Linked DNA regions of Homo sapiens. The protein of the gene in region 1 purifies or fractionates together with the protein of each later gene. This does not show direct contact. Each region holds a gene or a part of one and is shown in the gene's direction. Other genes may lie near its edges.

Region 1 (3,657 bases):
GGCAACCCCTGTTGGAGGAGCAGCCTGCACCCCTAGCAGGGACATAAATGGGTCTTCTTGTCCATTGGAGGGAGCATTCCATCCCAGACAGGGGGCCCTTGGTTTCTGGGGGCAGCACAAGTCATCGTGGCATTGGCTTGAGATATTCCCAACTTTTTTTTTGAGACAGAATCTCACTCTTGTTACCCAGGCTGGAGTGTAATGGCATGATCTCGGCTCACTGCAACCTCCACCTCCCGGGTTCAAGCAGTTCTCCTGCCTCAGCCTCCCGAGTAGCTGGGATTACAGGTGTGCGCCCCCATGCCCAGCTAATTTTTTGTATTTTTAGTAGAGATGGGGTTTCACCATGTTGAGCAGGCTGGTCTCGAGCTCCTGGCTTCAGGTGATCCACCCGCCTTGGCCTCCCAAAGTGCTGGGATTATAGGCGTGAGCCACCGTGCCCAGCCTTGTATTAAAACTTGAGTGCTGTACACATATGCAGCGTGTGGCACTGCCCCCCCAACCTTGGTAACGATTGTGCCATTGTTGAATTTTGCTTGGTGCATCATGTACCTCATGCTTCACTGTCTCTGCACCTGGGAGGCACTCTTGTTATCCCATTTTTAAAAATTTACAAGTCCCCATTATGCCTCAGAAAATCTTGTTTTCCCATTTTACAGGTGAGGAAACAGGTGCAGAGAGGCCAGGTGCTTGCCAGGGTGGCACTAGGCAGGGATAAAGCGGGCCAGCGGCTCCAGAGTCTATGCTCTCTCCACCTAAAGTTAAGAAAACAGTTACAGAGAAGTAAGAGGCAGTGTTAATATCAGATGAACTGGAATGAATGGGCCAAAATCGTATTTAAAATGCATGCTAATACAGTCTGTAAAGACTGTCACAGTTATGAAGCCTTGCTTTCCCAAGTAACATGCTCACTATGCGTAAACCAGAAGCAGCTGGGCAGAGTACCAGGAGCACAGTGACAAGCTCCTGTCTGTGACAGATCATTGACTAAAGATCATGTGATTAAAAGGTGACATGGAATAGAGGCATCGCATCTCAGAATCAGTGAGCTGGATTTTGAGAATTGATGAGCAGATTTTGCCCGTAAACGTGCAGTATGAGGGCATGCAAGCAGTTGATACCTTACCTACAGAAAGGATGTTATTTTATCTTTTTAAATTTTTTTCTTTTTTAAAAGAATTCCCTGCAAGTAAGCGCAGGACTTAGGAGTTTAGTAAGGAAATGCCACGCTCCAGTTTAGTACATTTTGAAACATGCTGAAATGACTATTCTGCAAGCAGTACAAATTGGTGACGTTGACTCAAGGTAGAAAACCTGAAAAGGCCTCTGGTCCAGGGACCAAAGTGAGAGGTTGTCAGGGAGCCACCCTTGTGACTCCAAAGAGCTTGCAGCTCAGAGACTCCACAAAGGAAGCCACCCCATCTGCTCCCCAGAACCCACGTGGCCCAGGTGTGGGAATGAGCTGCAAGGGGCACCAGCCACTGTGCCATGTACTTGGCAGGAGCGAGCGAAACTTCAGGACGGCCCCGAGGAAGGCATCTCTTCATCTCTGCCCTCCACACTCGGAGGTGAAGCATCTTGCCTGAGGGCTCCAGCTCGTACGCAGCAGGACTGAGATCGGAAGCAGGCAGGCTTGTTCGAGAACCTGTGGCTCTCATCACTGTGCTGCAGCTAAACGCAGAAAAAGGAAGCACAGACCAGCTTCCCGCATGAATGGAAGTGCAGAGACCCTCCATAAAATCTTAGCAACTAGAATCCAGCACTGTAGGAAAAGAATAGTCACCCACAGTGGCGTACACCAGCGGTGAGAGGCTGGTTTTGTGTCAGTAAATCCAGTCATACACTAAACCATACTGTTGGGTCAGAGAAGAGCCTAGATAGTGAGTTTCACAGATCCTAAGAAGACGTTTCACGTTTAACATCCATTCCTGATAAGAGCTCTTGGTCAAGGGGCTTAGTAATAGGGCTCTTTCCTTAACAGGATAAGTGGCATCGTGTATTAATAGCTAGCTACTGCTTCAAAGTAAAAGTGTGGGAGGCAGTCCCCTTAAAACAAGAAAGATGAGGATGCCTCTAGCAGATGACAGGGTAATTGGGCAGGAAGAACATTTATGTCTGTTCAGGAGATGGAACAGCAGAAAGGCTTTGACGATTAAGAGGCACACCCAGTGAGCCGGCCCAGCGCAGAGTTGCACAAAGACCACCAGCTTTCTTGCACAAGGATGATGGCCAAGTGGGAAATATAATAAGAGAATGTAATAGAAACGAGAATCTGGGGCCCCACCTTCCAGGCATACGTGTATAAAGCAGACTGGACTCTGGGAAGAAGGCCGAGGAGCACTCGCCCCCCAACTCCTCCCCAGGGAGAGGGAGAAAAAGCCATGATTTTGGATGAAAAAAAACTTCAGAACCATAGAGGAAGGGATGTTCCCAGTTCACACTGTTTTTTTTTTTTTGAGACGGAGCCTTACTCTGTTGCCCAGGCTGGAGTGCAGTGGCACGATCTCGGCTCACTGCAGCCTCGGCTGCTCACTCGGCTCCCAGGTTCAAGTGATTCTCCTGCCTCAGCCCCTCGAGTAGCTGAAACTACAGGTGCCTGCCACCACACCTGGCTAATTTTTGTATCTTTAGTAGAGACGGAGTTTCACCACGTTGGCCAGGCTGGTCTCGAGCTCCTGACCTCAAGTGATCCGCCTGCCTCAGCCTCCCAAAGTGCTGGGATTACAAGCCTGAGCCACCATGCCTGGCTTAGTTCACACATTTAATATGAACACAGTGAGAGGTCAGGCAGGGGCTTCAGGAGAGGAGCTTGCCCAGTTGATCTTGAGGCTTGAAAAGGCTAACATTTGAGAGTCACCTGTAACATTTTTGAAAAGAAAAGCAATCAGGCGGAGGCAGGACACGGGGAGGTGGACATGTACTTTTTCAAATCCTAAAACTTAAAGTGTAGGAGTTAGAAGACTGTTGTGATTAAAGTGGTCTCAGTCCTATAATCCTAGCACTTTGGGTGGCTGAGGCAGGTGGATCACTTGAGTCCAGGAGTTTGAGACCAGACTGGGCAATATGGGGAGACTCTATCTGTACAAAAAATACAAAAAAAAAAAAAAAAAAATTAGCCCAGCATGGTGGCGCATGCCTGTAGTCCAAGGTACTCCGGAGGCTAAGGTGGGAGGATCACTTGAGCCCCGGAGGTGGAGGCTGCAGTGAGCCGTGATCGTGCCACTGCACTACAGCCTGGATGACAGTGAGACCCTATCTTTAAAAAAATTGTTTTTAATAAAAATAAAATGCTGCAGTCCTCGTACAAAAGCAGGCCTGGGAAATAACGTGTAATGGAGGGAGCATTTGACATCAGTAGGGGACGGGGAGCTGGTGAGTAAATGGAGCTGGGAAATCTGGCTAAGTGGTTGCCTTTGGAAAAAAATAATCCAAGAGAAATAAGGAGTCAGACCAGAAACTGTGGTTCACAAGAGAGGAAAAATACGGTCAATGAGTGTAGGTAATAAGCTTAATCTTACCAAGAATCTAACAAGTACAACTTAAACAAGACTAGATTTTTGCCTACGGGGTTGGTAAAGGCTTTTTTTCATGTTGGTGAGGGTGGACTGAGGCAGGGATGTTCATAGAGCAGCTGGGAATAGTTTTAATAAATTTAGG
Region 2 (3,657 bases), on another chromosome or scaffold:
TGATCTAGAGGATTGAGGTAGTCTATTTGCATAAGTCTAAGGAAAGTGGGAGCTAAAATAAAAGTAATAGCTGTAATTTAATGAATGTATACTATATTCTAGGAACTGTTTTTCAAGTTCTCTGCTATACTCTGAAACAGATATTCTGGTTTTGATTAGGAAATTATTTCCTGAATCACATTCAGTATAGATGATATGCTTGTATGTACACATATGTAAACATACTCATGATTTCTTACACATGTGAAACAGTATATAATACTTATATTTAAATACATGAAATTGAATTTTTAGAGTATAGTAAAAATAATTAGCATTAATTTTATTTTGTTTCTAAAACAGGTGACAGTCATTTAACATTTTTTGTACTTTCTAAAGATTTTCTGACTAAAAGCATTTTAAAACATTTCAAATCAACAAGGAAATTTTTTTTTTCAAGTTAAAGGAATACCTAATGCAGAAAATTTGAGAAACACAGTAAAGCATAAAGACCAAGACAAAAATTACATGTAATTCCAGCATCCTAAGTTAACTATAGTTTGTTTGGTTTTTGTCCTTCCTTATCTTTTAAAATAAAAGCCCAAAATAAAATTATCTTCCGTAGTTTATACTTTCCCTTAGTTATATTTTGTTCAAAAATTTCTTGTCACTGTAACAATCTACAGTGTGTTTTGAATGGCTTTATATTATTTCATCTTACTAATTTACCCTAGTATTTTTAACGAGTTTCCTAGGGAGATATAAAGGTTGTTTTATATTTTTATATATAATGCTGTAGTGATCATTTTTATTTTGTTTCCTTGGGTTAAATTCTTTGAAGTAAAATTGCTTGATTAAATAAGATGTACATTTTCTGTGGTTTTGATAAATAGTTCCTGATTGTTCCCTAGAATGGTAACATCAATTTACTTGCACACCAGCATTTACTAGAGTCCCTCTTTAACAACACTGGATACTATGATTCTTTTTTAATCTTTACAAGTTTGATAGGTGAAATTGGTTCTACCTTTTTAGTTCATTTTTACGAGCTCTTTTTATAAAGGAGAGCAACCATTTGTCAAAAGTATATCCTTGTTATATGCTTTTTAAATACTGACTTCTTAAAATTATAGAAACTTTACATTTTTAGAAAATCAGATTCATCAATTTTTAACATTATCATGTCTGCTGTCCTTTAATAGCTTAAAAATATATCACCTTTTCCCCCTACTTCATTTGCAATTTTATTTTTTTGCATGTATTTCTAATATTTATTTCATCATCAAATTTAGGTTATACCTTATTTTTAACCTACCATTAAATTTACTTATTTTTTTCACCATGTGGTACCACCTTCAGTTTTGCTTTGTTTGGAATCTAAAGAGTTTATTGAAACAGAGGTGAATGTACACTTAAGAGAAATGAACTGAGAAATCTCAAAAAATGAAGATTTACAAAGATGTAGGAGCACCTAAAAATATTTTTTTAGAGAAAATGATAATTATGGTCAGCCTACCCTTTTATCTAGTATCACAAAACTCTTTTTGGTCTTAAAGCTAGTTAGTTACAAAATGACCATTTTTTTTTTCTAATTGAACACTTAGAAGGAATATTTATGTTTAGGTGACTGGAAATGCATATCTACAGGTTTTTTTGAAACTGTGAAAATTACAATCAGTTCACTTGATTCATTTGACATGTTTGAGCAAGTCATTATAGGAGGCAGGAATTTTTTGATGGAATGTTAAATTATCGTAGGATATCAGTTTTAGCACCAGTCTTGGGGACACAGTGGCAAAAACGTAGCAGTTTCGAAAATGTCAGATATATTTAACATTCGATATTCCTTTCTGCATATGAACAGTTGTAAGCTTTTTTAAGTATAATAGGTCGCAGGCAGCTTTGGTAGCCTATATCTAGAACTATTTTTTTTCTTTAAGAGACAGAGTCTACAACATTTCCCAGGCTAGACTTGAGCTCCTGGGCTAAAGTACTCTTCCCACCTCAGCCTTTTGTGTAGCTGGCACTACAGGTGTGTCACTGTGCCCAGCTCTGGAATTTTTAAACTCCAAATAAATATCTATAGTATAATTTTCATATAGCCCTATTTAATGTTTCTATAGAGAGAAAAAGGGATATAGAATTGTGCCATGTAACCTTTTTATATTTTTAAGTTACTTTTATAAGTTTGTTTCTGATTTATAGTTTGTTTTTAGTTATTCCAGGGATATATGTTACATCCATTGACCATATTGAGACACTTGTTCTAAAGTTTTAAAACTACAGTTAATTTTTTTGTGTCAGCACTACCAATATGTATTATAGGTTAAGTATCCATAACCTGAAAATCTGAAATCCACAATACTCCAAAATCTGAAACTTTGAGTGCCAACATGATGCTCAAAGGAAATGCTCATTGGAGCATTTTGGATTTGGGATTTTTGCGTTAGGGATGTTCAACCAGTAAGAATGCAGATATTTTAAAATCTGAAAACTTCTGAAATCTGAAACATTTCTGGTCCCAAGCATTTTGGTTAAGGGATACCCAACCTTTGTAAGCAAAAATACATTCACATTATGAAAGACAAATTTTTTTACTTCATTTGTTATTGAAACTAGATACTATACAGCAAGGAACAGTTAGTATTATACATTAATTATGATTGTGATTATAGTTCCTTTTCATAAGTCCAGCCTTTTAAAATTCCATATCAACGGAATTACCACAATTCTTTAAGGAAAAATTGTGATGTTGGTAAAGTAACACACAGTACCAAATACTGTAACCTTTAGTTATATATACTTTTGTAAGGAAGAGAAGAAAACTTTATTTAGTTCTAGTACTGACTCTAATATTGTAATAACAATTGTTATTCTGTTTTAAGTAGATTCAAATTATTTTTACTTCTCTATTCTTAGTCTTGTTGAGTCACTGTGTGTAATGAATTAACTTCTCTATGCACCTAGAATAGTACTGGCTATGTATTATCCCTGACAAGACTGAGGAAATAGTCACTTTCTGCGTGGCCTAACAATGGCCTAGAAAAGCTGGACTAGACCATCTGTTGAGCTCCTTCTAGCTCTAATTTTATTTAATTCTATATTTTATCCACAAAATTAGTTTGATACTGTACTTTATAAAATTGGGGGAAGGAGTCCTTTTCTCATATGTGATGCTAATTGATTTTTGAGAAAATATCTTGGTATTCATTTTACCCTAAGAGCTGCTACTACCTGCCCATTTTATCTTGCTTTATGCACCAGTGTCACAGTTGTGCTCAACCCATTTAAATGTCTAAGAACTTTTATTCTTAGTCTCAATATGAATTTTTGGCATCATACTATTAATAATTAAAGGAACACATTTAGAAGAGAACTGTCTTTTGATAAAGTGTTTAAGGTAGAGACAAATTTTCCCTTTTCTTTTCGAGTGATAAATATATATTAGGTAGGTAGTCATAACACATTTGTTTTAGACATTTATTCAATCATTTGTTCAGTCTTATTAAATACCTATCATGTGTCAAGAACCAATGCTAGGTTTTGAATTTAAAAATGGAAAGGGCTAAATAGCTGCATGATCTTGGATGAGAGTACACACACACACACACACACACATACATATATATATGTGGTCCTTCATAAATCTAAAATGCTGTAATTATTAGGTAATCTGCA

Evidence for each region. The genes of interacting proteins can lie anywhere in the genome.
Region 2: the proteins of CPT1A (region 1) and EMC2 fractionate together in Homo sapiens (co-fractionation; one large-scale study listed by BioGRID). This does not show direct contact.

Annotation. Positions count from the first base shown.
Region 1 is NC_000011.10:68,768,859-68,772,515, reverse strand, and holds part of CPT1A (carnitine O-palmitoyltransferase 1, liver isoform), read left to right. Parts: intron 1-3,657. UniProt on the Homo sapiens protein: Catalyzes the transfer of the acyl group of long-chain fatty acid-CoA conjugates onto carnitine, an essential step for the mitochondrial uptake of long-chain fatty acids and their subsequent beta-oxidation in the mitochondrion.
Region 2 is NC_000008.11:108,470,981-108,474,637, forward strand, and holds part of EMC2 (ER membrane protein complex subunit 2), read left to right. Parts: coding exon of another isoform or gene 1-3; exon of another isoform or gene 4-183; intron 184-3,657. UniProt on the Homo sapiens protein: Part of the endoplasmic reticulum membrane protein complex (EMC) that enables the energy-independent insertion into endoplasmic reticulum membranes of newly synthesized membrane proteins.